2 separate regions of the Homo sapiens genome follow, and region 2 is linked to region 1. Evidence: fine-mapped expression QTL. A gene starts in region 1. The other region holds a variant in brackets. All regions are shown on one strand. Distances are from middle to middle. Region 1 holds the start of CDK5RAP2 (CDK5 regulatory subunit associated protein 2). Region 2 overlaps CDK5RAP2 (CDK5 regulatory subunit associated protein 2).

Region 1 (15,925 bases):
AGGGGAGGAGATGAGATAGGCAGAGGAACTGCGGAATGATGCAACAGAGAAAGAGAGACGAAGAGGAACATCTGAATGCCCAGAGGAGTTTGGCTGGGGGTGGTCAGAGAGGAGTTCGGCCACTGGATGGGCAGGCTCCAGGGGAATATCATCTTCCTATTCCATTCCCCCTTCCAGCTCCCCATCCATCCCTCTAAAAACCACCTCCACCACTCAATAAAACCCCACATTCATCCTTCAAGCCCATGTGTGACCCGATTCTTCCAGGATGCTAGGCAAGAGCTCACAATACAGAAAGCTATCACACTGGCCCTCTGCCCTTATGAAAAGGCAGAGGGTCCATTGAGCGGTTTAACACTCAAGCCGTCTACAGATAGGAGGGCTAAAAGGGCACACTGTAACACATGCCCACTTGGGTTCCTGCAACTGCCTGTCTGTGTGTTCCCCCTTCCCTCGGGGGTTTGAGCAGTGGCAGTGACAGGCAAGCCACACTTGCCTTCACACGTCCTGTGAGAGGGATTGGGGAACCCTCCCATTTCAAAAGCAGAGAGATATGGGTTCTAGTGCAGGCCTCACAACTGTAGGATCTGGGGCAACTTAACAGATGGCTCTTCGTCTTGTCGCCATTACCTATAAAAGTAATAACTTTTTAGTTATCACTAAACATGGGGTTTCGCCATGTCGCTCAGGCTGGTCTTGATGCTGACCTCTTAGGGTTGCAGCAAGGTTAAGTGAAAACCTTATGTGGAGCATCGCAGCACATGCAAGGTCTATAATGAATAGTTCGCTTCCTCTCTCCCTATTATTTAAGAGGTCTTTAGGCTGGGTGCGGTGGCTCATGCCTGTAATCCCAGCATTTTGGGAGGCCGAGGCAGGTGGATCACAAGGTCAGGAGTTCAAGACCAGCCTGGCCAAGATGGTGAAACCCTGTCTCTACTGAAAATACAAAAATGAGCCGGGTGTGCTGATAATGCGCCTGTAATCCCAGCTACCCGGGAGGCTGAGGCAGGAGAATCGCTTGAACCCGGGAGGCAGAGGTTGCAGTGAGCCGAGATCGTGCCATTGCACTCCAGCCTGAGTGACAAGAGAGAAACTCCGTCTAAAAAAAAAAAAAGAGGTTTTAAATAAAAACTTTACAAAAAATGCAATGTTTTTCTATCTCTAGTGAGTGGATAATTGGATCAGGTACCAGCTAGTTTGCTTCCTGACTAGAAAACCAATCTACAGCCCAGTATTTGAGTAAGGCTACTCTTGGGTTTTGGGTATACTTAAATGAAATGAGACACCTCCCTAAGTTGAATTGCTGCTGTTTCTGTGTTTTCAGTGAGTGGTCTGTGGCCAGGACGGCATCCACAGGAGGCTGAAAGAAGCAAAGTGACATGTTGTTGGCATTCTATGGTTCCACAGGGATCCATGAAGAAACGCCATATTTGCCTATGGGAAATGGGTGGGAAACTGGTATTGTGAAGCGAGGAGAGCACAGGCCTGGAAGTCTGCCCATTTTGGGTCTATTCTTGCTCTGTTATGCACTTGTAGAGTGAACTTGGGCAGGCCGCTGAATCCATCTGGATCTCAGTTTTTCCACTGGTAAATCCAAGAAGTTTCGTTAAATGTTCTCTGTGAGGACCTTTTTAATTCTTGTATTCTATTCAGTGGGAAGATAAGGGTGTTCAGAGTAAGATAATTAATTCTGGTTAAGATTTATTAATTCATTCTTTCCTCAATATTTATTAAACACCTATTATCTGCCAGGCACTATAAGAGACCAGAGGGTATAGAGTTAAAAGTTCTTGCTCTCCAGAGTAGCCAGACACAAGAGTATGCACTGTATGATTCCAGTCCTAAGAAACTGTTGAAAGACAAATCTTGGCTGGGCATGGTGGCTCATGCTCGTAATCCTAGTACTTTGGGAGGCTGAGACTGGAGAGTAGCTTGAGTCCAGGAGTTTGAGACCAGCCTGGGTGACATGGCGAAATACTATCCGTACAAAAAATACTAAAATTGGCTGGGTGTGGTGGCATGTGCCTGTAGTACCAGCCACTCGGGAGGCTGAGGCGGGAAGATCGCTGGAGCCCAGGAGGTCGAGGCTGCAGTGAGCTGTGATTGCACCACTGCACTCTAGCCTGGGCGACAGAGGGAGACCCCGTCTCAAAACAAAAACAAAAAAACAAAAAACAAAGGAAAGAAAGAAAAAACAATTTTTTTTGTTGTTTTGATACAGCATCTCACTCTGTTGCCCAGGCTGGATGGAGTGCAGTGGCGTGATCTCAGCTCACTGCAACCTCTGCCTCCCAGGTTCAAAGGATCCTCCTGCCTCAGCTTCCCCAGTAGCTAGGACTACAGGTATGTGCCATTATGCCCAGCTGATTTTTGTATTTTTAGTAGAGATGGGGTTTCGCCATGTCACCCGGGCTGGTCTTGAATTCCTGACCTCACGTGATCTACCCGCCTTGGCCTCCGAAAGTGCTGGGATTACAGGCATGAGCCATCGCGGCCACCTCATGCCCCACTAATTTTTAATTTTTTCTTTGTGGAGATGAGGACTCCCTATATTGAGTAGGCTGGTCTCGAACTCCTGGGCTTCAGCAATCCTCCTGCTTTGGCCTCCCAAAGTTTTGGTATTATAGGTCAGAGCCACCATGACCAGCCCAAAAAGACAAATCTTTAATGAGGAAAAATAGAACAGTGAGGCCGGGTGTGGTGGCTCATGCCTGTAATCCAAGCACTTTGGGAGGCTGAGGTAGGTGGATCACCTGAGGTCAGGAGTTTGAGACGAGCTTGGCCAACGTGGTGAAACCCTGTCTCTACTAAAAAATACAAAAATCAGCTGGGCGTGGTGGTGCACACTTGTAATTTCAGCTACTCAGGAAGCTGAGGCAGAATTATTGAACCCGGAAGGCGGAGGTTGCAGTGAGTCCAGATCTCACCATTGCGCTCCACCTTGTGTGACAAGAACGAAACTCTGTCTCAAAAAAAAAAAAAAAAAAAAAAAAAAAAAAAAAAAAAAAAAAAAAGCCGGGCACAGTGGCTCACGCCTGTAATCCCAGCACTTTGGGAGGCCGAGGCGGGCAGATCACGAGGTCAGGAGATCGAGACCATCCTGTCTAAAACAGTGAAACCCCATCTCTACTAAAAAATACAAAATATTAGCCGGGTGTGGTGGCAGCGCCTGTAGTCCCAGCTACTTGGGAGGCTGAGGCAGGAGAATGGCGTGAACCCAGGAGGCGGAGCTTGCAGTGAGGGGAGATCGCGCCACTGCACTCCAGCCTGGGCGATAGAGTGAGACTCCGTCTCAAAAAATAAAAAATAAAAGAACAGTGATTTCCTGAGGGGGAAGGGAGATTGACTTGGACTGTAACACCAAGGAACCTTGTGGGGTGATGGAAATGTTTCACATCTATGCTAATACAGTAACCACTAGCCCCATGTGGCTATTTAAATTTTAATTAAGATAAACATTTTAAAAATTCAATTCCTCAGTCACATAGCTACATTTCCAGGGTTCAATAGCCACAAGTGGCTAGTGGCTATTGTATTGGACAGTGCAGATTTAGAATACTGTATTTCCATCATCCAAGAAAGTTCTGTTGGAGAGTCGTGTTCTACCTCTCTCTCTCTCTTTTTTTTTTTTTTTTGAGACTGGATCTTGCTCTGTTGCCCAGGCTGGAGTGCAGTGGTGTGATCTCAGCTCACTGCAACCTCCACCTCCTGGGTTCAAGAAGTGATTCTCCTATCTCAGCCTCTGGAGTAGCTGGGATTACAGGCACACAACACCATGCCCAGCTAATTTTTGTATTTTTAGTAGAGATGGGGTAACACCACTTTGGCCAGGCTGGTCTTGAACTTCTGGCCTCAAGTGATCTGCCCGCCTCAGCCTCCCAAAGTGCTAGGGTTATAGGCATGAGCCACCGCGTCCAGTCTGCTATTCTGTATCTCTTGATTCTGATGATGGCTACATGAGTATGTAAGTTTGCCAAAACTCACCAGAATGTATACTTGAAGTGGGTACACCTATTTTGTGTAAATTCTATCTCAATAAAGTTGATTTAAAATATTAACATTGGCCAGGTGTGGTGGCTCATGCCTGTAATTCCAGCACTTTGGGAGGCCGAGGTGGGCAGAACACCTGGGTTGGGAGTTCAGGACCAGTCTGGCCACTACAGTGAAACGCTGTTTCTACTAAAAATACAAAAATTAGCTGGGCATGGTGGCGCACACCTGTAGTCCCAGCTACTTGGGAGACTGAAGCAGGAGAATGGCTTGAACCTGGGAGGCGGAGGTTGCAGTGAGCCGAGATTGTGCCACTGCACTCCAGCCTGGGCTGCAAGAGTGAAATTCTGTCTCAAAAAATAAAATGAAATGAAAATAAAATATTGACATTGCCTCTCCTGGCCTCAAGGAGTTCACACTGTGGCAGCCAAGTTAACAATTACAGAGCTAAATGTCACAATGATGATAAGCTCAGGGTATGCTGGGAGTCCAGAGGTGGGACATCTACCCAAACTGGGTCCCAAAACTTTCTCTTAAACTGTTGTTCAGAGGACCCTAGGACTCACAGAGAAGGGGAAGGAAGCATATTTTAGACTCTAAGAGTCACTGGCATGTATAGTTCTTTTGTGTGAATTAGAAAAAAGGCATCCCTGCTTTGGGATAAACTCACAGCTTGTCCAGCACAGCACGGACTCAATTTCAGCCTCCACTCCTCCTTTGGGTGGATGTGCTTGTGTAGGGCACAGCCTGTGCAGTGTACTTGGTGGCATGTCACACACACAGGAGGACACATGCAAGGAAAAGGGGACTGTCATTTATCCCTTTAAGGAAGGAGGCACTGCAGCTGCCACAAGTGTTGTGTTCATCCTTCTCTAGTTCCTGCTCTGTGCTCTCAATGTGAATTCACTGCATTTAAGGGAGATGCAAAGTTTACCGTCCCCTCCTGCAAGTCACAAGACATTAAGTACTTCTTTTAATCTGCAAAATGTCCAGACAGTTGATTAATTCAATTACCCTTCTCTGCTTAGAGCTATTGCTGCTTTACATATTCAATGTGCAGCTGGAGAGGGTGCTTGAAAGCACTCTCTGGCATCCTAGGATAATTTTTCCAGCAGCTTTTAGATCTCTGTTAGCCAGACCCTGGATTTAAGTGGGTGGGGATGTGGCCATCGTACTGAGGATGATCAATTTAGGTAGGAGATCTTGCCGTGGGACATATCTCTGGCTCCTGCAAGTTTCAAAAAGCTCAGGAACCACCTTTTGTGAATCAGGAAATGGAGGTCCAAGCTCCTCTCTGTCACTAGCTTGCTGTGTGACTTTGGGAAAATCGGTTCATGTCTCTGAGTCTCAATTTCCTTATCAGTAGAAGAATGATAACAAACTTGTCTTAGAGCTGTTGTGAGGTAGAATCAAGGGATGAAGAATGTGACATGGGCTTTTTAAATAGTTGCATCAAGTAGGGATTTTATTTGATCTCTGTTGGCCTTCAAACATGAGGAGCTAGTGCACATAATAGTATGTACAGGTTTTTATCCTGCTTTTGCAGGGCATAGGTCTTACTTGTAAAACAGCCTTCCCCAACTGCTCAATCAGAATGACTCAATCCCTTCTGTGATCCTAGAATCTCACTGTTCTTTTTCTTTTTCTTTTCTTTTTTTTTTTTTTTTTGAGATGGAGTCCTGCTCTGTCACGAGGCTGGAGTGCAGTGGCACGATCTCTGCTCACTGCAACCTCCACCTCCCAGGTTCAAGCGATTCCCCTACCTCAGCCTCCTGAGTAGCTGGGACTACAGGTGCGTGTCACCACACCCGGCTAATTTTTTTTGTATTTTAGTAGAGACGGGGTTTCTCCACGTTGGCCAGGATGGTCTCGATCTCCTGACCTTGTGATCCACCTGCCTCGGCCTCCCAAAGTGCTGGGATTACAGGCGTGAGCCACCGTGCCCAGCCCTGTTATCTTTCTTATACCAACAAAGTATTTAAAATGTTTTGCTTTGTTTCATAATTATGTATGTGCATTTTCACCAGCTTCTTGAGGACAGGTATTCAGTGAAAGGCACTACGGCCTAGTGGTTAAGAACATGGGCTTTTGGATGAATTCTGGGTTCAAATCCTGTCTTCACAACTGAGCTACTTGGATGGTGTCGGGGCAAAACTTTCCTTTAACCTGTCTGGTTCAGTACCTGAGGGTTCTGTGTATTAAATGGACAAAAGACAGATTAACAGGAGAAAAGGCATATTAATTTTTATTAATAGTTATGTGCACAAGAGTTCATAGAAAAGAAGTGAAACTCAAATAAGTGGTTAGGCTCAAGGGCTTTTATCCCATTATAGCAAAAGAAGGGAGTGTTGAGCTTCAAGGCTGATAAATCATGGGGAAGTGATTAGGGAATATATGGGGGAAACTAATGGTAGACAGGGAGGAGGCACATGTTCACAAAGGGGAATTTATGTCCTGCTTCAGGGTAGAAAAGGAGAAGGCAGAAAATTCTTTCTGCATCTGTTGATTCTCAATTGTCTTCAGCTCAAAATAATCCTTATGCAAAAGGGGCATATGTTGGGATGGCATATTTTGATCCCCTTCAATGGCCAGGCAACTCTTTCTTCTCTTTGTACTTCAGTTTTGTCAACCATAAAGTTGGAGCATAATCAGTTCTTGTTTCATAAGGTTATTGTGAGGATTGAATGCAAAGTATATAACACAGTACCTGGCACATAGAAAGAGCTTAATATATGGTAGCTAATTTTAGTTATTCATGGAACATCACAGCTGAAGGGGCCTCAATGTTGTAGTGTAATGCACTCAGCATACAGATAAGAAAATAGGCCCAGAGAGTTGAACTGGGAGATTGGTATTAACCTTATATTATGTTGATGTGTGTTACCATCCCTAGTCCAATAATCTATATTCTATTCCTTTGATATTTGGTATTTCTCATTCCACTTTCCATCTTGAGAAAAAGTCAGGACTTGGAGTTAATTTGACAAACTGGCATTGAGCATCTACTATGTGCACAGCCTGGGGCTACATGTTGGGCCCAGAAGGCATCACTGACTTGATCACCCTGCTCTTCAGAGAAGGCAGTGGGTACTAATTGAGAACTGGTCCTAATAAGGACTGCTGGTGTTGAGGGTTGGTTGGTAAGAGGTCTTGGGAGCAAGGGGGCAGATGTGTCTGCCAGAAATACTGCCAACTGTGGGACCAGACAGGCATGGGTTTGAATCTCAGCACGGCCATGGTTTAGAAGGGCAGCTTGGGCCAGGCGCAGTGGCTCATGCCTGTAATCCCAGCACTTTGGGAGGCCGAGGTGGGCAGATCACGAGGTCAAGAGATTGAGACCATCCTGGCCAACATGGTGAAACCCTGTCTCTACTAAAATTACAAAAATTAGCTGGGTGTGGTTGTGTGCGCCTGTAGTCCCAGCTACTTGGGAGGCTGAGGCAGGAGAATTGCTTGAACCCGGGAGGCGGAGGTTGCAGTGCCACTGGACCCCAGCCTGGGTGACAGAGTGAGACTGTGTCTCAAAAACAAAAACAAAAACAAAAACAAAGCGTGTCATTGCCATGAAAGACAGAACTGTCAGAGACTGGAGGAGAGTAAGGAGATGTAACAAGTAAATGCAGTGTGGAATATTGGATTGGATCCTGGACCAGCAAAAGGGAATTAATGGGAAAAGATTAAATTTAAATAAGATCTGTAATAAGTCATATTGTATCAATGTAATTTCTTATTTTTGACAATTGTGCTATGGTTGTGGAAGATGTTAATATTTTAGAAATTCTTTGTACTATTTTTGCAACTTTTTTCTAAGTTTGAAATTATTTCTAAATAAAAAACTAAGAAAGAAGGAAAGAAAAAAAAGTGTGACCTTTGGGAAATCTCTTCCCCTCTCTGAGCCTTTAGTTTCTTCTTCTGTAGAGTAGGGCGATCAACCCAATTCACTTCACAGCATCATGAGGATAAAACGGAAGAGTGCAAAGTAGTAGCATTGCGTATATATTGATCCTATAAAAAGTTATTTTTGCTGTTAGTAATGGCAGTGCAAATGTCTTGATCTGTTAAAGCTTCAGGAGGGTTCTACCCAAATGAAAAACATCTGACTGCAAGCTACTTCCTCCCAGCCATTTGATATGACCTTGTCTGAGGAAATAATAATGCCAGCTTTGTGGTTGGGTGGCTGTTGTCAAGGAGATAGCCCCAGATAGCCCAAACAGCTGGTGGTAGTGACGTCACCTCTAGGTTTGGCAGAAAGATCATGGTGAGACAGAGACAGGACAAAGGCCTCTGTCTCTGAACATGAAACCACTACAGTAGCAGGAAAACCAACTTCCAAATAGCCTTTCCTTTGTGCAATTGATTCTATTTTCAGTTTCTAGGTTCACTAAAGGGTTTAGCACGCAACCCAGGGACATGGTCATGCTGAACAAGGCAATGGACTAATCATAATGAGAGATCCTAGGCTGGGCGTGATGGCTCATGTCTATAACCCCAGTACTTTCTGACGCTGAGGTGGGAGGATCATTTGAGCCCAAGAGTTCGAGACCAGCCTGGGCAACATACCAAGACCCCATCTCTACTAAAAATAAACAAATTAGTCCGGCATGGTGGCACCTGCTTGTGGTCCCAGCTACTCGGGAGGCTGAGGTGGGAGGATCACCTGAGCCTGGAAGGTGGAGGCTGCAGTGAGCTATGATCACTCTTATTGTACTCCAGCCTGGTTGACAAAGCAAGACCCTGTGTCCAAAAAAAAAATTAAATAAGTTAAAAAAACAACCCAACTCCTCACAGGTTCTTTCATCTTCAATAATGTCTAAGGTATTCAATTAGATGAGGCAACCATGTGAACTCAGCATTGTCCTCCCCATTTTACACATGAAAATCGAAGTGTAGCAAGGGGAAGGAACCCCAGGTCACAGGATAAATGGGAGGAGTTTCCAGAGTCAGAATCCAGGTGTCCAGACTTCCAGTTCTGTAAACTGCCCACACTAAGATTCACCTCTTAGCCACTTTGAAGCAGTTTCCCAAGGAGTAGAGTCTGGTGAACACAACCCTTAAATACTGTCGTCTGGATGTAGACCTTGCCTCTTAGTACTAAATTCTAAAGCAAAAGAGAAACCCAAATGGGGATGACAGGTTGCCTGAAACAATCAAGGTGTTGGAATTCAAAGGGCCCTGGTCTCAATTCCAGCTCTGGCACTTACCAGCTGTAGGACCTTCAGTAAGTAGTTTTTACCTTTTGCAGCCTCAGTCTTCTCAATTGTAAGTCAGATAGTAGCGCCTCCTGCAGAAGGTTGTTGGGAGGGTTAAATGAGGTGGTGCATGTAATATGCCTGGAACAAGTGACGTATAAGACATGCTCAAAATGTATAAGTTCTCTTCCTTGTTTATATTCTCAAGAGTTTTCATTGGCTGGAGATGCAAAGTTAGTTCTTTCATGTGGGAAGTGTTAGCCTCCCTCCCCAGGAGAGAGTTGGTTGTATGTTAGTAGCTTTGAAATAAACACAGAAGCCAGGCACAGTGGCTCACACCTGTAATCCCAGCACTTTGGGAGGCCGAGGTGGGTGGATCACCTGAGGTCAGGAGTTCGAGGCCAGCCTGGCCAACATGGTGAAACCCCGTCTCTACTAAAAATACGAAAATTAGCTGGGCGTGGTGGCAGGTGCCTGTAATCCCAGCTACTTGGGAGGCTGAGGTGGGAGAATCGCTTGAATCCAGGAGGTTGCAGTGAGCTGAGATCGCGTCACTGTATTCCAGCCTGGGCAACAGAGCAAGACTCCATCTTAAAAAAAAAAAAAAAAAGAAATGTAGAAATCACCTCCAGAGCTGTAACATCCTGAGAGACCCTGAGAGGTTCAGCCCTCTCATTTAACAGATGTAGAAGCTGAGGTCCACAGAGAAGTGATTGGCCAGGCCGGGTGGGGTGGCTCATGCCTGTAATCCCAGCACTTTGGGAGGCTGAGGTGGGTGGATCACCTGAGGTCAGGAGTTCGAGACCAACCTGACCAAGATGGACAAACCCTGCCTCTACTAAAAATACAAAACTAGCCGGACGTGGCAGTGCATGCCTATAATTCCAGCCACTTGGGAGGCTGAGGCAGGAGAATCGCTTGAACCCGGGAGGCAGAGGTTGTGGTGAACCGAGATCGTGCCATTGCACTCCAGCCTGGGCAACAAGAGCAAAACTCCATCTCAAAAAAAAAAAAAAAGGTGATCTGCCAAAGATCACAGAGTTGGTGGCAGAGCCAGGGTGGGAATCCTGACACCCCAACTTCCCTGCTTTTGGACACACCTATCTCATGGGTTGAACTTACTGGCAAGGAGTATTGGTTCCTGGGCTTCAAGGACTGCCCCGTTCCTGAGGCAGTGCACCAGGTGTGCTAAGCTTTCCCTCTTTTTCATGCTTTTATCATTGCTAATTGTGGGTGTGGTTGAAGATCTAGAGAAAGAAGGGGGACAGGCAAATAATCGCGGGCTTTGGAAGCCTAACTAAAGCTGAGAGAGAGACAGAGAGAGAGAGAGAAAGAGAGAGAATGAATATGAATCTGGGATACACAGAATTACTATTGACAGAGGTCCTAAAAGTATCTCTGATTATTCTCACAAAAACCTTGCAGGATAGGTATTGGCCTTATTTCCAGACTGATTGATTGAATCACTCATTCATTTAACATACATTTTCAAATAGCTGCTGAGTGGCAGACATAGTGCTAGGTGTTGAGGATATAGCAGTGAACAATTCAGAATATAGTCCCTGCCCCATGCAGCTTCCAGTCTAGTGCAAGGAAAGACATTTAAAAAATGATTTTACACACACACACACACACACAAATTGCAAAATATGGTAAGTGCCACAAAGGAATAATTTGCATTGCTAGGAATACAAGAAGTGGCTTGATTTAGATTAAATGACTAGGGAAGGCTTCTTTTGAAAAGTATCAATAATTGGTTAATTACTTAACTGAAGAATGAGGGCCTGGTGCAGTGGCTCAGGCCTATAACCCCAGCACTTTGGGAGGCCAAGGTGGGAGGATTGCTTGAGGCCAGGAGTTCAAGACCAGCCTGGGCAACATAGTGAGACCCTGTCTCTATTTAAAAAAAAAAAAAAAAGAATGAGGAAACAGGGTGAAAGGGGAATTGTTCAAGATTACTGGGAAAGTCACTATCTATCCACTCACCAACCATTTCAAGTTATTTTCATCGGGCTCTCTCACAAGGGCCTGCAGAGGAAGGAGCAACACTGAGTTGAGGAGGGGAAGGTTAATTTCATTGCTTAAGCTCTGCCAAGATTATCTAAGTGTTTGGTGATTGCTATGTGCTTTAAGAAAGGCAGCCAAGGGGCCGGTGCTGTGGCTCACGCCTGTAATCCCAGCAGTTTGGAAGGCCGGGGTGGGCAGATCACGAGGTCAGGAGATTGAGACCATCCTGGCCAACATGGTGAAACCCCGTCTCTACTAAACATACAAAAATTACCCGGGTGTGGTGGCGCAAGGCCGAGGCAGAAGAATCGCTTAAACCCAGAAGGTGAAGGTTGCAGTGAGCTGAGATCGGGCCACTGCACTCCAGCCTGGCGACAGAGGCACCATTTCAAAAAAAAAAAAAAAGAAAGGCAGCCAGGGTTATGCAGAGAGCCCTCATCTAGTTGGCAGGAGCTGCAGACCCCCACTCCAGTTGAAAGACATTGTCAATACTTAATTACTTTGGGAGAGTCCTTTCCTCTTGCTGGCCCTCAGTTTTCTGACCACAGGTGCCTTTGAGTCCTAATGGTAATAAAAGACCAATAGGTGAGAGACTGGAGTGGGAGTGCTGTTGACCACTGGCTCATGGGAATGAGTTATTTGCTTCAAACTAAGTCTGCAAATTACTGTTTGCCTTGAGATTCCGCACGTAGTATTTTTCCAAAGCAAGGCAGCACTCAGTTATCTGAGTTTCAACTTAAGGTCAAATCCCAAAGTTTTGGGGTCATTATTCTAGAAAAGCAAACACGAGGTTAGGAACTTTGAGGATTCCTGAGTGGCTGTATTCATTTCCATCTCCCGCGTAAATTAACGGACTAGGGCCCGCTTTGGCCCTCAACAAAGATGGCACCCGCCCTCGCCTCTCCCTAAGTGCCCTCACAAAAAATGGCAGCCGGCCTTTTTTTGTCTCTTATTTTTGCTTGGCTTAAGCACGGATGCTTTGCCCTTAGTTAAGATGGCACCTATCCCCGCTTCCCTGCCCGTCCTCTGGCGCCAGCCGGTCGGCTTCACTGCGTGCGCCTCCGTGACCCCGCCTCGTTTCCGTAGGAAGAAGCGCCGGGAAAGATGGCGGCGTCTGTGGTTTGAATTCCAGCGGCGCCGCCAGAGTCTGAACAAGAGCTGGGGTGGAGGGGGCGGGGACCTGGGGAGCCCGGCGGGTCGCTATCGCGGGGGGTACTAGTGGCGCCGCCGCCACAGACACCAACGCTGTCGCCACCTCTGTAGCCATGATGGACTTGGTGTTGGAAGAGGACGTCACCGTCCCTGGGACGCTCAGCGGCTGCAGGTGCGGCCGGGGCATTGGTGGTCGTGGTAACCGGGCCGGGGTTCCAGCTGGTGGGATTTCGTTCTAACGCGGCCTTGGGGTTTGCTCTTGAGGGTGTCTGGCCAGGGGCAGTGTGTGGGGTGGGTTCCTTCGGAGAGGGTCTCTGGGGGGCCCACCACCTGACACTCTGGAGGGCTGGGAGCCGCGACCTGCACCACAATTGCCAGTAGCATTGCGCCATGTACTTTGTAGAGCGTGTGAAGAACAGGTAAGGAGTTTTCTGAAAGAGTAGGACGAGGGTGGGGCCACTTGGAGTATCCCGTTAGTGGGGATTGGTGGAGAACAGGGACCTTGAGGGCACCTGATGGTTCCTTCTGGTTTGAGAGTTTGTTTTCATTATGGAGAGAGTGTAGCCGGTATGCCCAGACTTTGCTTTTTGGGTCACATAGTGGCCACCCAGGAGGCAATGGAGTGCAATGATTAAGAACCTTGGCTAGAGTTGGACAAAACTGGATTCAAATCCAGCCCTGTAAACTGACTAGCTGTGTGACCTTGGTAAAGTGATTTCACCGGCTTTCCCATCTGTAAAATGGGCTAGTAATATCCACCCAACAGAGTTGGGGTGAGGATTAAAAGAGGTGATGCCTGTCGAGCCATTTGCTTGGCAGGTGTAGTGCCTGCCACATAATCAGTGCTTAAAAAATGATCTTGTGTTGCCATTAGTGTCATTATTACTACTGTCATCAAAGGTGATATGAATCAGGGAATAATGGCCAAGAGTGGCCTCCCATGGACCTGCCCCAAGAGACTGTGGGAGTCCCCATTGCTGGTGGAGCTGGGGTCTGGTAGGAAGGCCTAACAGAGCGCAACTCTGCTCCACGGCTGGCCCCTGTGGTTGTCCTAGACTCCTGGTTGGAGAGTGAGTAGAGGGAAGAGGAGGAGAGCCCTGACGGAGAACCTGCACTGTTTATCCAGCTCTACTATGGACAAGCTGCTGCTTTTAGTCAACAGATCCTAATTGAAAGGGTGACCATGTTATTTATTGTGCTAACTGGGACACTTAAGAGTGAAAAGAGCCAGGTGCGGTGGCTCACCTGTGTAATCCTAGCCCTTGGGGAGGCCGAGGTGGGCCGATTTCTTGAGCTCAGGAGTGTGAGATCAGCCTGGGCAACATGGTGAAATCCTATCTCTACAAAAACTACAAAGATTAGCCAGGCGTGGTGGCATGCACTTGTAGTCCCAGCCGCTCGGGAGGCTGAGGCAGGAGGATTGCATGAGCCCGGAAGGTTGATGCTGCAGTGAGCTGTGTTCATGCCACTGCACTGTAGCCTGGGTGACAAAGTGAGACTCTATCTTTAAAAAAAAAAAAAAGGAAAGTGAAAATAATTAATATTTATGCCCGGGCAGCAGACATAAAGAGGGCCTATCTTGGGTAAACCTGGACAAATGGTTTTTCTGTTTATTGAGAACCTTCATGTATGAGGCACAGACTAAGATGCTTTGCAGTTCCTGTCTAATTGGGTCCTGTGATATTTCATCATGCCCTTTTCTATCTATTTTACATCCACTGCCCCAATATATTGGGAGTATGGCTTCTCTCTTGTATTGTCCTTTGCACCTCTAATAGTTTTTTATACTACAATTTGAAAACTATTTTTTATTTATTTATTTTTTTGAGACGGAGTCTTGCTTTGTGACCAGGCTGGAGTGCAGTGGCGCGATCTCGGCTCACTTCAACCTCCGCCTCCCGGGTTCAAGCAATTCTCCTGCCTGAGCCTCCGGAGTAGCTGGGATTACAGGAGTGCACCACCGTGCGTGGCTAATTTTTGTATTTTAGTAGAGACGGGATTTCACCATGTTGGCCAGGATGGTCTCCATCTCCTGATCTCATGATCTGCTCTCCTTGGCCTCCCAAAGTTCTGGGATTACAGGCGTGAGCCACCGCGCCCGGCGTGAGAACTATTTTTTAAATATAAATCTGCTCTTCACAGTCTGCTGCTTTATACTTTTAATGCTGCTTATTGCTGTTATCATAACTTCCATTATTATTCTCTCAGATAGCCATTCTTATTTCAGTGCTTTTTGGCCAGACACTTGGGTTTTGGGGTCCCAGGCCTAGCTGGGTTTTAATCCCAGTTCTGCTACTTAACAACCCCTTGATCTGGGGCAAGTCACTCATCATCTGTGAGCCTCAGTGTTTATCATCTGTAAAAGGGGTTGGTATAAAGCCTAGGGTTGGCATAAGGATTAAAATGAATCTTAAAAAGTTTAGCTCAGTGTCTGACCCAGAGTAACTACTCAACAGATCAGCAAATATTCTCCTTTCCCTCATCTCCCTGCCTTTGCAGGACGTAGATACTGCATACATTCCATCTTAACCATTTTAAAGCATGGTTCAGTTGTATTAAATATATTTGTATTATTGCTCAACGGTCACCACTATCTATCTTCGTAACTCTCCATCTTGCAAAACAGAAACTGTGTCCCTGTTAAAACAGTAACTCCCTATTCCCCCCTTCTCCCAGCCTCTGACAATCACCATTCTACTTTCTGTCTCTATGATTTTTTTTTTTTTTTTTTGAGACAGGGTCTCGCTTTGTTGCCCAGGCTGGAGTGCAGTGGAGTGATCTTGGCTCACTGCAACCTCCGCCTCCAGAGTTCAAGCAATTCTCATGGTTCAGCCACTTAGTGGCCGGGACTACAGGCATGCCCCACTACGCCTGGCTAATTTTTGTATTTTTGGTAGAGACGGGGTTTCACCAGGTTGACCAGGCTGGTCTTGAACTCCTGGCCTCAAGTGTTGTGCCTGCCTCGGCCTCCCAGAGTGCTGGGATTATAGGTATGTGCCATTGCGCCCAGCCTGTCTCTATGATTTTGACTACTCTAAGTGTCGCGTATAAGTAGAATCATACACTATTTGTCCTTCTGTGACTGGTTTATTTAACTTAGCATTATGTCCTCAAGGTTCATGCGTGTTGTAGTATGTGTCAGAATTTCTTTCCTTTTTAAGGCTTTTGTTTTTAATTTTTTTTAGAGACAGTCTTGCTCTGTTACCCATGCTGGTCTTAAATTCCTGGGCTCAAGTGATCCTCCTGCTTCTGCCTTGCTAAGAGCTGGGATTACAGACACAAGCCACTGTGCCTGCCCTTCACTGATATTTTTATTGTCCTTTTGATTATAGCCATCCTTTGGGTGTGACATGGTAGGTATCTCATTGTGGTCTTTTTTTTTTTGTCGTTGAGACAGAGTCTCACTCCCTTGCCCAGGCTGGAGTGCAGTGGCGCAATTTCGGCTCACCGCAACCTCTGCCTCGTGGGTTCAAGCGGTTCTGGTGCCTCAGCCTCCCAAGTAGCTGGGACTACAGGCACGTGCCACCATGCTCGGCTAATTTTTATATTTTTAGTAGAGACGGGGTTTCACCATGTTGGCCAGGCTG
Region 2 (16,501 bases), 200 kb after region 1:
GCTCCAGGCAGCATAGCTGGTGGCTGACCCGGGCCTGCAACTCCTCCTTTGCCAGGCTCTGCAGCTCATCCCAAGGAGTCAGGTCCTTGGAAATTCTCCAAGCCCTGCGGACTTCACAGACCTGCTCTGGGTCTAAAGGGACTAGGAGAAAGTTGGCATAGCACCTCCTCTTCCTCCGTCCCCTCATGGTGATGGGGAAGAGCAAAGGCCAGGGCTGATTGCTACCTGGTCAAACTGACACCATACCTTCTCAGAGTCTACAGGGGAAAGTAAGGAAAAGGCATCCCAGTGGGACCCTAAGAGTCCTGATGCCCTGGGGCCACTCACTGGCCATGTGACCTGGAACCAGCTGCCTCAGGTCCTCATTTGCAAAGCGAGGACAGTAGTTCTGCCCCATAGGGTGGGGGAGTATTCAGTGAGGCCACCGTTGGAAACCACCTGTCACCAGGTCAACACTGCTCAGCTCAGGTCGGTACCTTCTTCCCAGCACTCTGCTGAGGTGGGAAGAACCATGGACTGAGTTGGGCAGGCCCACATGTGAGTCCCAGCTCTGTGCTGGGGCCAGTCTAGATTTGGGACGAGTCCTTTGTCGCTGTGTTCCTCGGTCTTCTCCTTGCAGTGGGGATTTCTGTGCTTTGGAACGTGGCAGTGCTGTTGAGGTGTAGGGGTCCCCTCAAAGCTTGAGCCAAGTGATCCTTAGTTCTTCTGCCATGAGCTTTGTTCTCTAGGGACATGGAGTGCTCTTTCACAATCATCTTCAACCTCCACAGCTGTGATACTTAATCTTTTCTGGGTCTCAGGCCCCTTGGTGAATCTGGAGAAAGCTGTGGTCTCTCTGTGGAAAAATGCGGACGTCCAGATACATACCCCCATTTGCACACAGTGTCGGAGGGTTTAGGACTGACCCCCCAAACATATCCAGGGCCCCATGTCAGGAACTTTGCCCTGCAGCAGGAGGTCAGGTTGGGGTAGAGGGGCAGTGGCCACCTCTGAAAGTCGTTTTGCTTGGCTAAAAACAAAGTCCACACCGTCTGTCCCGTCCCCAGTGTCACAGATTGCAAATAAACTCCATTACCTCCAGATGGAAATTTTCGTGAGGCAAGAAATCAATATTTTCTCAAGGCCACCACACGACAGACACCTATTCTGAAGAAGCCACTGGGGAGTCAGGCTATGTGTGTTGGGCGTTGAGTCTGTTACAGCCTCTGGCACTGTTGGCTAAAGGCGCGGCTCCAGAAGCCTTTGGTATTTCCAACGTGGGGAGTAAGCTGATCTTACTCTCACCAAGCCCTGTTGAGAACAGATTCCCTATCAGGCTCAGAACTCTGATCAAGAGGGGCATTCTTGCCACTGCTGGAGTTTGTGTTGGACAAGAAAAAGCCTGAAGGAAGACCCACCTTTACAGTTGCTCCTGAAAGCCAGGGCTCGCCTGCCCCTCCTGGGAATTCTCATGCACGGGGGATCTTTCTAGTACAGTGCTCCGGGCGTCAGTGTCAGCAGGGACCTCTGAAACCATCCCACCCAACCAGCTCTTGTCCAGGCAGAATGTGACTTGCCCAGAGGAATCAGGCTGGGCTATTCCACCAGCTAAAGGGCAGGCAAAGGAGAAGCAGCATGCCCACGGTTTTTTCTTCCAGGCCATTTGGAGCTGGCTCTAAGAGCTGCTGGGTAAAAACCTGGCTTCGTAGAACTTGGACCCTCATATGTGGGTCTGCCTGATCGGGGCACAGTCCCTTCCCACAGCTGCTTCCCAGAGGGCCTAGGAAACTAAAGAGTGCTGGGCAGGCCCAGGCCTCTACCCTCCCTGCGCCATTGCCCTCCCTGGCCCACAGAAGTGAGCCTGAGGGATACCTGGACAGCCAGGTGGCCGTGCACAGCTGTAGGGTGTTCTCTGAACCGGCATAGCATGCTGTAGCCTCTGCATCACTGTCAGGTGGTGGCTTAGCGGGGCCTCAAAGAGGTGTTGTTGATGCGTTATTTGGCCCTGGGGTTTGTGATGGGTCAGGTGGGCCCTTTGTACCTCCCTCTGGTCTGGATGCTTCAGACCTCGTGTTGTCTACATGTCCGAGCCCTTTGGGGTGGGGTTCATCCTCCCTGCACTTGGCTTTCACACAGCTCTCCTGGATATCCATGGCCCTAATCATTGCATTCTTTGCTCTCTCCTCAGTGGTCGTAACCCACAAAATCCTTCGGAAGGCCAGAGGAAACCTGGAGGTATGCCCTTTGAGTCTTTTCACTGCAGGCCAGTGGAAGGTCAGGAGGAGTGCAGGGCCAGAAAGGACCTCTTGAAAAATGAAGGTGCAGGTGGAACCAGGGGACATGTCCTCCTCAGAGAGTTGTTTCTGCCAGCAGTGCATGAAAAGTTGTGTTTTATCATGCCCTGTCGCCAGTAGGGGTTCTAAGTTTTAAATTTGTATGCTATTTTTACCAGTAAGAAATACAGCAAACAATGCTTGACACATAGTAGGCATTTGATGAATATTTCTTGAATGAATGAATACAGTATGATCTCATCGTTGTTTATTAGGTAAATATTTACTGACCAAACTATGTTTTTGAAAGCACTTTGAGAATAACAGTCTCGCTTTCACCTCTGTCGGGGTCTTACTTCAGAAACCTCCTTTGGACTTAAAATTCTCCTTTTTTTTCTTCCTTTTCCTAGCTTAGGCCTGGGGGAGCCCATCCAGGAACATGCAGTCCCAGCAGACCAGGCTCCTGAGAAGAACTTTCAGCCAATAAAGCTTGTGCTTCCCCCACCGAGCTCACGCTGTCTCTTTGTTCCAAGTGTGGTTCCTATTTATTGAGGAAGAAAGAGCTGTCTGGCCAAAGGAAATCTATTTTTTCCCTTCATGTTTTCTCTCTGAAAGTTGGCTTGAGAGTTGTTGTCAGAAAGGTGCAGGTGCTCCACAAACGGGTGGTAAAAAGGCCTCGAGCTCTTGGATGTTGTATTTCAGATCAGGGGCAGGCACCGGAGTTGAGGCTGTGCGCCTTGGTGGGCTTCACGTCTTCCCCTGGATTTGCTTAGTACTCAGCCAGTGCCACAGTTTGAAGATTCTCATTAAATGATTCATTTCATTTCACCTTGACGATTCTGTTGTTTTGTGTGGCGCCTCAAAGCCCAGGTCCCAAAATCCCAAGTGGGACAGGCCAGGGTTCCACGAGTCGCATGGCTCACTGCTGAGCTCGTTCAAGTGTCCAGAGAAGAGCACCTCCGTGCAGCGTGGCCATGGGCACTGGTGTGTGCTCAGCATCTCACAGTCTGCTGGACAGCAGCCCTTGCAGTGGTGCCATTCCCGATTTAGCAAAGAGCAGAGTGAGGCCCAGAGCTGGAATGTGGCATTTGCATTGTTCCCGTGATGACAGGGGTGTGTCATCAGCCATCCACATCGCTGCCTCTGACCAAGATGCCCCCAGCCAAAACACTTTAGCGGCTTCCCACTACCCTCTGATCCAAGCCCGAGCCCCTAACAAGGTTTACAAGCCTTGCTGGCACCTCCAGCTCCTTGCCCATCTCGCCTCCTCCCGCTCCACTCTGTGTTCCAGGCAAACGGAACAGTGTTCTCCCCAGTCTAACCCAGGCTGCGCCCTCTTGGACATGCTCCTCCCACCCTTTCTTTTTCTAGTTAGCTTTGAATGGTCCTTTAGAAATATTTTTTCTGCCCTTGGGGAAGCCTCTCCTGACCCGATACTAGGTGAAATGCCCCACCTCTGCTCCCGCAGCCCCCACACCACTGTGCAAATCCTCTGAGCCCCTGGAGAGCAGAGGCTTGTGTTGACCATGGAATTGCCAGCACCTGACCTGGCGCCCAGCTCCCCAGACACGATGGTGAGGGGAGGAGACGGGATTGCACTTGCTGGAAGCGTAGGGTGCAGCAGCCCCGGCTGGGAGTCCGGGGAGTGGCCTCATGCCACTTTGCCTGTCTCCCCATCCATTAAGAGAGGGGCGGAGGAAGTGGGCAGTACAGACCCTTTCTGCTTCGGTTCCTGCCATCTGTGCTCTTCCTGAGAAATATTTGCACAGGTGTACCTCGGTAGAATACGTACCAGTGTGTGAAAACTCAGATTGAGCCATAATGTCACTGGAGTGCCTTTCGCAAGCAGTCACAACAGTTGACTTCCTAAATGGAAGCTGGGTCGGTGTGGCGCTGTGGAGCAGGAGGCCTGGTTCCCGTCCCGAGTCTTGTGCTTCTGTAAATGAGAGTTACTCTTGTCCAGTACTGTTACAGAGTTCGGAGCCTCAGATTTTGAAAGCAGCTGAACAACAAGGCCCTTTCCACAAATCGGTGACTCTTCTTCACTGTCTCAGTGGCTGGTCTTAAGCAAGTTTTAAAGTACTGTTTTAAGTTCTATGGCTGTGTTGTGCCAAACCCCTATTAACCTCAGTAGGGGAGGCACCAGGTTCAAGGGGCCTGAGAAGAGACCCACAGAGCCAGCAAACAGGATGTGGGCTTTATTAGGGGCTTACATACAGGGGAACAGTCCAGAGGCGGCAGGCTGGACAGGAGAACTGCTTTTCGTACAGAAACAGATGGTTCAGTGGCAGCGGCTGAACAACACAGCCCACGGCCCAGGTGGGGCAGGAAAACCATCACCACTTATAAACAGCATGCAGTTTATATAGCATTTTCACTTAACCTTCCCCCAAGGACCTCTACCTGGGAACCTTTTTTTAACCCAAAACTCAGGGCCTCAGTTCCCTGTACAGCCC[A/G]TGTCCCATGAGACGGGCTTGGGGGCTCAGATACTCCTCACAAACAAGGAACAAATCTCCGGGTTGGCCACTCCTAGATTCTCTAGCTCAGAACAACATTAAGACGCGTCTGCCATACAGGGTCGTTCTAAGGTTGTGCTTAAGCTATTGCTGTCAGGGTGTTTACCCTCCAGGCAGGTGTGCGCAAATGTAAGCATGTGTGGTTGCGGGGGCAGTGGGGAGGAGGGGAGGAGGTTGTACAGTGTAGTAGATGCAGCTCAGGCAAGGCCTGGAAGTCAGACCTGGGCTCAGATGTCCCCACAGGGGAAGAGTCCTACCTTGCCTGGCACATGGTCAGTGCACAGCCCATGGGAGCTGAACTTGGTCATTGGCAAGGGCTTGAGGTGCAGGGATTGGAGGAGAGATCCACATTGGATTCTGGTACATCCCAGGCCCGTCTGGTTGGTGAACCCAGGCACGCCTGGAGCAGGAGCTGCAGAGGAGGGGCTCCAGGAGCCCAGCTGGCCATTTGCTTCAGGTCACCCACAGCTTTTCAGGAACACAATAATCTAAAACGAAGTGCATTTTTATCCGCCAGTTTAGAGTCACGTAAAATACTTTCAACCTTGGGCTAGTGAAGGCCCTCCCTCTTCTGGGAGGTGGAGGAGCAGCCTGGTTTGTTTGGGCTGGATTAATGCCAAGAACAAACTGCAAATAAGACAATTTGGACCTTGGAAAAAGCTCCATTGTCCCTGGTGAGTTAATTTTACCAGCAGCTGAATTCGGGAGGCTTTGAAGCAGTAATCAGAAAATGCGTCAATTTCCCTTCAGTGAAATTAATCACCACGTGTGCTGGAGGAGCTGCACCTGAGAGAAACAGCTGCAGGGACTAAATATATAGTGAGAGGATTGGGAGACAGGCCCAGGGCCCCCTGCTTGCCCTACCTTGGAAATGGTGCTTTTATCTCACTTCCGAGGCCCACATCCCAACGTCCCTATCGGGGTCCTGGAGAGTAAAATCCTCGCGCCTCAGGCCGGCGCTCACCTGGGATGGCAGTAGCCACACTGTGCATCTCAGTAATCTGCACCACCTCACCCATTTTACAAATGAGAAGACTGAGGGATGTAGCCAGAATTTGAACCTGAGTCTGTTAAAACCTGATGTCCCTTGGATTATCAGTATTCCCCCAAAATGCCATCTCTTCGAGAAACTGCAGCATTTCCCTGTTACAAATCGAAGTATTCTCAGTCTACCCTTTCCAACAAAATGTCTCTGGATGACCAGAGCAGGAGCCCAGAGACCCACAATTGAATTCCTCAACACAGCAGCCCCGAGAACTGCTTGTAAGTGGGTGGTGGAAGGGAGAAAGAGTGATCTTGTTAATAAGTTCTCGGCATTGTGGAAACCGAGAAACCTGCCTGGGGGATCCGGCCCTGCCAAATTGCCTCTTCAATCTTGGCCATATTTTAAGGCTAACTCAAAAATGCAATTATCAAAATCACTCATCCCATCTCCTGAGAAGCCCCGGACTCTGCCTCAGGGGCTAGACCTGTTTACCTCTTGCCACAGATGGGTGCCAGGTAGGATGGGGGTGAGCAGATCCAGAGACCCGGCTCCCCAGGTGGGGCCTTCTAGTGGAACCAAGCCTCGGTTTCCTTATTCACAAAAATTATGAGATGTGGAAAGATATACAGTGGCTAACTGTGAGGCCCAGACATGGCCAAATTGCAGGGGTTCATCTATTCACCTCAGTGAAGGGTCTGCCTTTGGCCAGCAGCACATGCTAGAGACATCCTTGCACCTCCTCCCTCACCCTCCATATCCCATCCATGATCAGGGCCACTCTCTCCACTTGTATCTCCCAAGGCCATCGCTTCATTCATCTCCAGTGCCACCTCAGTCCAAGTGACCATTAACTCTCACCTGGACAGCTTACTGTCCAGTTGGCCTCCCACATCCACCCACCCCTCCAAATGTCTGCCAGACCACAGCTAGAGTGATTCTTTAAAAGGGAAAGCAAATCATACTATCCCCCTTGTTTAAAATATGGGATGCCTCTCACCACACCTAGTGTGGTCAGCAAGCCCTCAGTTCCCTGAGCCCCCCTGTCTGCCTTCTTGGCTCCCTGTGCTCTAGTCTCTTAGGGCTTTTGTCTCTGTCCACAGGACCTTTGCACATGCTGCAGCCTGCCTAGCATGCTCTCACCGTGGCTTCTCCTGCTAGTCAGAGATGGCTTCCCGATCAGGAGCCCCTATTCTGCATGATCAGAGCGTGATGATCCCCCCTCACTGGCACTTGGCCGCTGTGTGACTTTGGGTTCTTCCTCTCCCTGTCATTGACCTGAAGCTCCGTGAGAACACAGACCTCATGTGATTTGCTCACACCAGCCCCGCTGCCTGGGACAGGGCCAGCAAATATATTCACTCAGCAAACATTGCCAAAGCTTCGCCAGCCTCCTTCTGGAGGAACTCAGGTTGGTCGGGAGAACAGACAAGTAATATAGTGAATAGGGAACATTTGCTTAGACCTGGGGTCCTGGGAGCCTGGCTGTCTTTGGAACATCATCATAGGCAGTCATTGTGACAGCCCTGGGTGGGAGGGACTGCTTTTTTCATATGAAGGACTGGGGCACAGAGTGACCCGCCCAAGATCACACAGCTTCAGATGGAGGCCCGTAGGCTACAGAGCCCAGCTCCCTGCCGCTGCGTGTGAGTGCAGTTTAGTTTGGCGAGTGCCCAGGCAGCTGGTCAGGCTGGAGTGCAGCCCACACTGGCAGCGTCTGCTTCCACTTGCGGCCCACTCAGGCAGTTCCTGCCAGTGGTCCAAAGTCCAGCCCTGCTCCTGGTGAGGCCCAGAGGGGCCTCATCCTCGCTGGGAGGCAGGCAGTTGGAGTTGCTTCTGACTCAACCTTTTAGACCTCTTTGTCCTCAGGGTTGCCCAAGTCCCCTCTTTTCCCATTGACCCCATTCCCTGGGAAGCCGCCGGCCTTGCCTGACCCGAGAGGGCAGCACTGGGCAGGGCTCACCCCTCCAGCTGGATCACAATGGGACTAAGTGCATGGTGGCTACCAAGCGCCCTCCCACACGTGCTTCTCTCAAATGCGAAAGCACCTCCTTGTTAACAGGCATTCACGGGAGAGCTTAATTACATGGTTTCAGGTCTAAAACGACCCTCTGTTTGTATTAATGCCACTTTCTCGTTCCAAACAGAACAGCATGTGGTCCCAGCTCGTGTGTGACACTGGCCGACGGTGTGGGCAGACACAGGGAAATAAGAGAACAAGGTCGCCCTGGCCTCGCCCTCTTCTTTAGCCAAAACAATGGTGGGGTCGGGGGCCACAGACAGAGAGTGACCAGGCCCAGGGCTCCTTTGTGGTGGAAGCCAGTGGCTGGGAGCCCACCTGGAGAGTGTGGAGTGGGTGTGGGAGGGAGAGACAGGTGGGCGAGGTGTGGACACTCAACATAGGAAAGTATTTGGAGACAGTCACAGTTACACACTCAACATCTGCTGGCACCTACCCAAGCCCAGAGCTCCCAGAGCCCCGCGGGCCCCCGAGGCACTCCCAGTCAAGCATGGGAGACAGGCCAGCACACAGGTGATCCGTGGTCGTGATAAATGGTCACAAGGGGCCGTGGGCACCCAGAAAATGAGCTCCTACTCGGCCTTGGAGGTGAGCAGGGAAGGTGTCCTCGGGTGACCCTGGATGAACAGTAAAGGCCAACTGGGAATTGTGGGGTGGAGAAGGGGTGGGGGTGGGGCTCCTAGGCAGAGGAAACAGCAGGGACTAGGGTCTGTGAGTGGTGCATTGGTCTGGCTAGAGCTTAGAATTCAGTCAGCGGCATAGGCAGTGCCTCCAGTGGCAGCTTGAGGCGGGTGGGTGTCATCGGGAGCAGCAGGGGAGGCACGGGTAAGTTTTTGTCTGGGAAGGGGTTGGGGGATGTTGCCGAGTGTCCAGGGTGCAGGCTGGAGTGTCCTCACCTGGTCAGGGGCCGGCAACAGAGAGGCAGGGTGGATTTGGGACACTTATGAGGACCTGAGGACCCGTGTGTGTGTGTGTGTGTGTGTGTGTGTGTGTGTGTGTGTGTGTGTGTGTGTGTGTGCGCGCCCTGGCGGCGGGGGTGAGGAGGAGAGGGTCCATGCTGCAGGTTTCTGGCCCAGCCAGTGGTGTGGGCACCTCCACAGAGAAAGAGCAGTACGGAAAGTATGGAACAGTATGGAATGCCAACTGCATCTTTCAAGGTGGGCAGAATCTACAGGGTTGTGGTAGGGGAGGAAACAGCCTGTGCAAAGGCATGGAGGCCACTGAGGGACCCATGGTAGTGGAGTGTGGCCGGGGCATGAAACACGAGGTTGGACACAAGGTACTGGAGATTTGGGCCTTTTTTGTGTGTGTGGCATTGGGAAAACAATGGTGATTATTCCAGCGATGAAGGAGAAAGCCCTGGGAGGAGGCAGAAAGAAAACTCTAGACGAGAGGCCAGTCAGGGGAGGGGGTGAGGGACTCGGTCATTGCCCAGGCAGTGAGCCCCATGGCTGTGAGGACACAGAAGCCCACTCTCTTCTCGCTGCTGTTGCAGGAAGGCTGATGGCAAGAAAGGAACCCGGCCTCCTACTCAGATGAGGCCAGGGGGTGGCCTCCCCGGGGACTACCTGGGACTCCTGTTTTACCTGCAGTCTCCTGGCCCCACCTCTAGTGAGCCAGTGACCCAGCCGCAGGCAGCTCCTCTGTCTGGAGACAGGACAGTGGTCCAAGCAACTGCCTAGCAAGGGGCTGTGTCACAGAAACAGAGGTGATTTGAACTCTCCCAGCCTCAGTTTCCAGCCTCACCTTTAAGGTGGGGGTAACGACTTTTTTCTACCCAAGCCTCCTCCTCCCTGGAGAGTTCCCTGTCTTTGAGTTCAGAGCTCCTCCAGGCTCTGCAACAGGCCATCCTGTCCTCCCCCCAGCCCAGCGGATTCTGCTTCCTTCTTCTTTCCACTCTGTCGTATCCTCTCCTCTCCTCTCCTCTCCATGTCCACCTCCTACTTAAACACCGCTTGCCTGCAGCCAGCCTGGGCGCCTCCGGCCTGGGTGAAGGAAGCAGTCTTCTCACGGGTCTCCCTGTCTCCTGCGCATGCACCCACCCCTCACTGTCTCTGCCCACATCCAGGATGATCTTGTCAATTGCAAGACAATCATGTCACTTCTCTGCTTGCAAACCCTCCCAAGACCAAGTCCCCACTCCTCCACTGCATCCAAGCCTTCCCATCTGGCCTTGGCCTTCATCTCCCATAGATCGGGGCTTGTCCTTGATGATCTCCCCGGCCCCCATCCATGAAGTTGCTATTCTTGCCACACTTCTTGCAGGCCCCTGAGACCATCTCCTCGGCATCCTGCAGCTCTGGGCTTTGCACCTGCGTCTACTGTTCTGAAATGTCCGTCACCCACATCCTGGGCCTGACTCACTCCCACTCATCTTTACCTCAGGCATCACCTCTGGGCCTTCATCCTTTATGCCTCAATTCGTCTCCCTATAACAGGGGTATGATCCCTTGTAACTGGAGATGGTCTTAGGGTCTTAATTGACTACAAGCAACTAAGTTAACTGAGACCAAAGAAGAAGTCTAAAATGCTAACGATGCCTTGGCTGCATTAATAGAGATACAGAGTCCAAACAAGAGAGGTGAATTATTTGGCTCTTGTCAGACCTCCATGACTTGTCCAACTGTTCTGTGGGCCTTGTGATCATTTCCTGTGCCTTGCTTTAGGAAGGATATTGACAAAGTGGATCATATCATTGATACTTTCACCTCAGTTCACTGAATTTGCTTGCCATTCGTCAAACATGTATATGCCAGGCACTACAGGTGTATAGTCACATTTAATGCCATAAAGCATTATGATCTCCTTTGTACAGATGAAGAGGAAGTCACAATAAGTCAGGTATTGTAATGATAAAATAGCGCCTGTGGTAGGCAGAACAACAGCCCCTAAAGATGTCCATACTCTAATCCCGGAACCTGTGAATATGTTACTTTATATGACAAAAGGGAATTTACAGAGGTGATTAAAGTTAAAGACCTTGAGATGGGAGATCTTTCTGGATTATCCAGGTAGGCCCACTCTAATTCCATGGTTCCTTAAGGGAGAAGAACCTTTCCCAGCTGTGGCCAGAGAGAGATGTGACACCAGGGAAAGGATCAGAGAGTGGCTGAAGACAGAGGGAGGGGCCAAGAGTCAAGGAACATAAGTGACTTCGGGAAGATGGAAAATGCAGGAAACAGAATCTCCCCTAAAGGCCCCAGAAAAACAGCATAGTCCTGCCTACTCCTTGATTTTAACCCAGTGAGACCCATGTCAGACTTCTGCCTATGGAACTGTAAGATGATAATAAATGTGTGTTGTTTTAAGCCACAAGGTTTGTGCTGATTTGTTATGACAGCGGTAGCAAATGAATCTCGTGCCTCAGTCAGTACAAGTTTGATCATATAAATTTAGAGATGATATGTATATGCTTGTAGTGTGTAATTTCCTAATGACAGGGGCCACTGAATAGATAACCTGTGAGGTAGTGAGCTCCCCATCCCTGGAGATATGTTACAGAGGCTGTCTGCTAGCTGTTGATGATGTTGTAGAAGGGATTTCTTCTCAGTGGGCAGGTGCTTGGACCAAGGACTTCCTCCAGAGAGTCTTCAGAGATTAGAGTGAGAAGCCACGTGGCCCAGGATTGGAGGAGGTTTTGCTTCTCCCTGCCGGCTGGGAGGCCTGTCACCACCCATAGGGTCTCCCTTTAGGCACGTTATTATATATGGTTCCAGGACTCCATTACTTCAGAATGCTTGTATGTAATGTATTGAAGGAATTATTGAAATGTGTAATTACAGTGTGCATTGTATTCTATTATATTCATTTGATGGAACTGTGCTCCATAATATCTATTCTCATATAAAAGACTCCACCATTAGAGTGTTATATTGTGTGATGATAGTTGTCCTTCAGCAGACACTGTCTCCTGTCTTCACCCAGTTCCCTTTCTTCTTCCCAACACTCCTGCTACCATGAAACTGGAATACCCCAACTTCCCAGGTGAGAAGGCACTTTGGGGTGATTGGGTCCACCCCACATTAGACAGATGGAGAAGGTGAAGCCCTGAGGCCAGAGCTGGTAACGCCAGCATCTCCCAAGTCCCAGCCAGTGTCCAGCCTGTGGTTCCCAAACACCTGTGAATTGGAACCGTTTGTTCAAAAAGAAATCTTGTGTGGAACCCCAATATACAAAGCAGATGGGTCAGCTCTAGGGCAAGCCAAGATGGGCCCCCCAGGGTCCTGAGTGCTTGGGAGCACACTAAGCCTCACCCCCACTCTGAGGTCCCTCTACCAAACATTAGGGCTTCAAGGGACATCCCGTGAAAACCAGTGCCTCAACCCCTTCCTGGTCCAGATGGGAAAAATGAGTCCCTGAGTGTGGCGAGTGCTTGCCCGAGATCACACCCCGAGCTGGAGGCAGAGCTGGGATCAGCACTCGTGTCTTCTCAGCCTGTGTCTCTCCATCTCAGCTGCATCGAGAACCCTGGCTGTTCTCAGCTCTGGCTGCGTTGGAATTACCAGGGACTCTTCAGCATGAGGATCAGAATCCTGGTCCCACAGACTGCGGTGTGATGAGTCTGTGGCAAGGTGCAGGGCTTCTTGTTTTTGAAAAGAGCCCCTGAGGCTCCTGCTGCACAGAGCAAGTTAAGAATATCTTCCTCCTAAACATTGCTTTGGTTTGTGCTCCTCACTGCATCTCCCCGCTCTGCCATAAGTCAGGCCCCATCACCTGCAGTTGTCATCTTTCCACAAATATTTACAGAGTAGGCACTGTCCTGGGCCCTTGGGATAAAACAAAGGCCCCTGCTTAGATTTTAGCAGTGGACGCCTGTAATAAGCCCATGGTCTCCTCTGTTAGAGGGGAAATGTGTTATGGCAAAAGGGGCTGGAGTGCGGGGTAGGGGAGGGTGGTAGAGGGGAGCTGGTGTTAGGATCTAACTGGGCGGGGACAGGACAGGGGATCCTAGTGGAAAGGGGATGTGAGCAGAGAAAAGTCATCCCAATACCTCCATTGCCTGGATCTGTGCAGTAGCATATTGAGAACAGAAAATGAGAAAATACTGCTCTCCCAGGTTGCCTGCCTTGTCATTGGGTTCTGAAGCCACCCTGCTTGGGCTGGGTTATCACAGTTCCTCTGCCTTCTGCCTGCAGCCTTGAAGTGAACGGCGGTCAGATCTAGGCCTGGGCTGGGCTGGAGACAGTCTCCTCCTATCTCCACCCCAGAGCCATGGAGCCTCAGCTTCATGAGTCTTTTTCTCCAAAGTCCTGCTGGCTGTGACATTAACCCATGTAAGCAAATGCCTCTGGTTCATTGGAGGAGTCAGACATGGAAGCTCGGATTGCAAAGCTCTACACACAGTCTCAGTTCTTACAACATCACTGTGTGGCTGGGTTTAATTCTCCCATTTTTCAGAAGAATAAATAAAGCTCAGTGAGGTTAATCCACTTGCTTAGAGTCATGTACCCAGTAAATCGAGGAGCTGATAGTGCAGCCAGATCTGTTTGACTGTTTCTACTACGTCGTGTCACCTCACTAAATGTTTGCTGAACTGCTGAGTGGAGGTGTGGAGTATTAGGCTGTCTGAGTTAAAATCCTCAGAGTGGCAATTTAGAGCGTGTTATTCAAATCCAGCCGACTCCTGTTTTACAGTAACCATCATCAAAGGCTGCTGTTAACGGGAGCCCACATCTTCCTTTGTGCATTTGAAAAAAATCCATCTTAAAGCCATCACGCCCGTGCGGTGACCACGGAGGAGTCAGTAGGAATTAAATCTGAAGCCAGAAACAGGAAGAAGCCAGAGGAAGGTCATCTTTTGAAATGACAAAGAGGTGCTGTTTTCTCAGTCGGGTAGGCCCAGCTACTGTAGCACCAACTGGGCCGCGAATTTTAATTCCAATCTCTGCAGCTGCTAATGTGCTTGTCGCTTGGAGAATAGACACTAATTGACAAGCAACTAAATAAATAACGTGTAACATGAAAGCAAACACAAGCTTTAAAAGAGAAAAAAAAATAGCAAAAAGGATGAAATTAAAAATGCGGGGGGTTGAACGGTGTTTTCCACACTCCATTAAAGTGACATCAAAAGGCTTTTCAAAATATTTGTTTTATGGTGAAGATAGAGTTAGGAATCATCTGAGCTCCTGTCCCCACGCTGCTGCGCTGGAGATCAGAGGTGGCGCAGTGAGAAGAGGAGAGAAGATTCTTCAAAAGGAGCTGGAGAGACGCAAGCTGCGTGCCTGAGGGATGACGTGTCAGCCTCTTGGTCTTACAAGGGGACAGACCGAGGTCCAGAGAGGCTCAGTGGAGCACCAGAGTCACCCACTGGGTCCCTGGGAGGTTAAGCCTCTGGTATGGATTGAATTGTGTCACCCCAAAAGATATGTTGAAGTCCTAACCCCTAGTACCTCAGAATGTGACCTTGTTTGGAAATGGGGTCGTTGCCGATGTAATTAGTTAAGATGAGGTCATACTGGAGCAGGGTGGACCCTTGGTCCAGTATGGCCGGTGTCCTTGTAAGAAACGGGAGAGAGGGGAGAAGAGCACCATGTGAAGATGCAGACACAGCAAGAAGATGGCCACGTGACCACAAGCCACGAGGCAGGGACAGATTCCACCCCGAGCCTCAGACGGAGCACGGCCCTGCTGACACCTGGGTTTCAGACCTCTGCCCTCCAGAACTGCAAGAGAATAGACTTCCGTTATTCCAAGCTGCTGAGTGTGTGGCGCTTTGTTCCAGCAGCCCTAGGAAACAAATCCAGCCTCTGCCGCCTGTGCTCCTGCTCCCCACTCTGCCCCCAAGGTGGACACAAGTCCCGCATCCTGGCTGGAGGCACTGCTTCTCAGACCTCCCCTGACGTCCTCCCGCCAGTTGTGCTCTGATCATATAGCCATGAAATTTCACTGACATTCCCCCATTTTCATTATTCATGTAGTTCTTGCTACCTAGACTACAAGAATCTTTTCAAATTTCAATTCGATTTGTTCAACAAGAACTTCTTGAGCTTCTTAGCCAAATATGCCTGCCTTTCCCAGGAGCCACCAGCCCTTCTCCCCTCCTTCTCCACTCCCTCCAGACTGGCCGTGGGGCTCCCTTGCTTTTCCCTAAGCACGCCCGACATCCTCTGCTTCAAAGACTGGCCGCTTTCTCTGCTGGAATCCCCTTTCCGCAGACATCCGTGTGGCCTAGCCTCTCACCTCCTTGAAGTCACCGTCTCAATCAGGACTACACTGACCACCCATCCCTATTCATAATCCCAACCTGCCCCTGTGTACCTGGTGCCACTTAGCTGGCTTCGTGCTGTGTGATTTTTGTATGTGTTATGCTTATCCTTGGTCATGTTTTCCCGCCATAGACTATAAACTCCATGAGGGCAGGGACTCCTCTGTGTTGCTCACCTAGAATGGTGTCCGCTGCTCAGTAGATACTTGTTGATGAGTGACACTCTCCCTATGGTAGGCCCAGGGCTGGGCACTGGGGAGGCTGATATGTGGTCCTTAAATAGCTCACAGCATCCTAGGGGACTAGCATGTGCTGACAATTCCAGCTCAGGTGCTACGAGCAGCAATAGGCTGACTGCCATGGCAGACTGAGGAGTGGTGAGTCCAGAGGGGTCTTCCAGAGGAGGTGTTGTCTATAACAAGTAGGCAGGTGGTGGTAGGAGGGGCTGGCCTAGGGGCACAGTATGCAAAAGCGTGGAGGCAAGGAGAATGGTGAGGTCCCATCCCCACGAGACATGACGGGGTGCTGTGGTGAGGCTGTGCGTGAAAGATGGCAGGGTGGGAGATGAGCCCGGATGGGCAGTGGGGCCTGAGCCTGACTGAGGGCTTCGTATACCCATGGCTTCATCCTGGGGTGAGGCAGGGACAAGTCATCTCCAGGTTGCAGAACATCCACTTCTAGCCCCTTCCCCCACCGGGCTTAGTATCAATCCACTGGAGACAGTTCCCGCCACATCAGGCTGAGCTCCTCCTTTCTCCCAGCTCTATGAGCCCAATCATACCACTTGGAACTCTTGGGTGACAAGTGACAGAAACCCCATTCAAAGGAAGTTAGACCTGGAAGGGGTTTAAGTGTCTTGTGTAACCAACTGGGAGGGGCAAGGGTGGGGCAGCCTCAGAAGGGGCTGGAAGCAGGACCTCTCCATGCTACTCAGTGCTCCGTACCTCTACAGGCGACTCACATCTCTCCTAGGTGGGCTGGGAGTGGGGGCCACATAGTGGAGCAGCATCCATGCTCACACTGTCTTCTTCTTTTTTATTTTTATTTTTTTGAGACAGGGTCTCCCTCTATCACTCAGGCTGGAGTGCAGTGGCACAATCTCGGCTCACTGCAACCTTCACCTCCTGGGCTCAAGCGATCCTCCCACCTCAGCCTCCCAAGTAGCAGGGACTACAGGTGTGCCCCACCGTGCCCAGCTATTTTTTTTTTTTTTGGTATTTTTTTTGAAGAGACAGGGTTTCACCATGTTGCCCAGGCTGGTCTAGAACTCCTGAGCTCAAGGAATTCACTCACCTCCCAAAAGTGTTGGGATTCCAGGTGTAAGCCTCGGCCCATGCTCACACATTCTCAGCTTCATAACCAGAGAGGAAAATGCTCTCTGCCTGCAGCTGTGAGAACAATCCCAGGGAAGGAACCAAGTGGCTCCAACCGAGTCGTGAGTCTACCCAGCAAACACCCCCGTGGCTGAGAGTAGGGTCCTGGGTGAAGCAAGCACCTCTCATTTGGACTCCTCACAAGGGCAGGGTG

Evidence for each region.
Region 2: its variant is fine-mapped to the expression of CDK5RAP2 in whole blood (INTERVAL, PIP above 0.99).

What each region holds. Positions count from the first base shown.
Region 1 is chr9:120,576,505-120,592,429 of GRCh38, reverse strand. It overlaps CDK5RAP2 (CDK5 regulatory subunit associated protein 2), which reads left to right and starts at 12,263. Exons shown (of 38, transcript NM_018249.6): 1 at 12,263-12,510. The coding sequence starts at 12,452. RefSeq lists enhancers at 12,046-12,175, 12,029-12,591.
Region 2 is chr9:120,375,454-120,391,954 of GRCh38, reverse strand. It overlaps CDK5RAP2 (CDK5 regulatory subunit associated protein 2), which reads left to right. Exons shown (of 38, transcript NM_018249.6): 37 at 2,168-2,214; 38 at 2,663-3,080. The coding sequence ends at 2,719. Among named protein-coding and RNA genes, the nearest start is that of MIR147A, 140 kb to the right of the region's middle. RefSeq lists an enhancer at 1,350-1,850 and a silencer at 11,238-11,446. The variant A/G (reference allele first, on the strand shown) is at 4,709.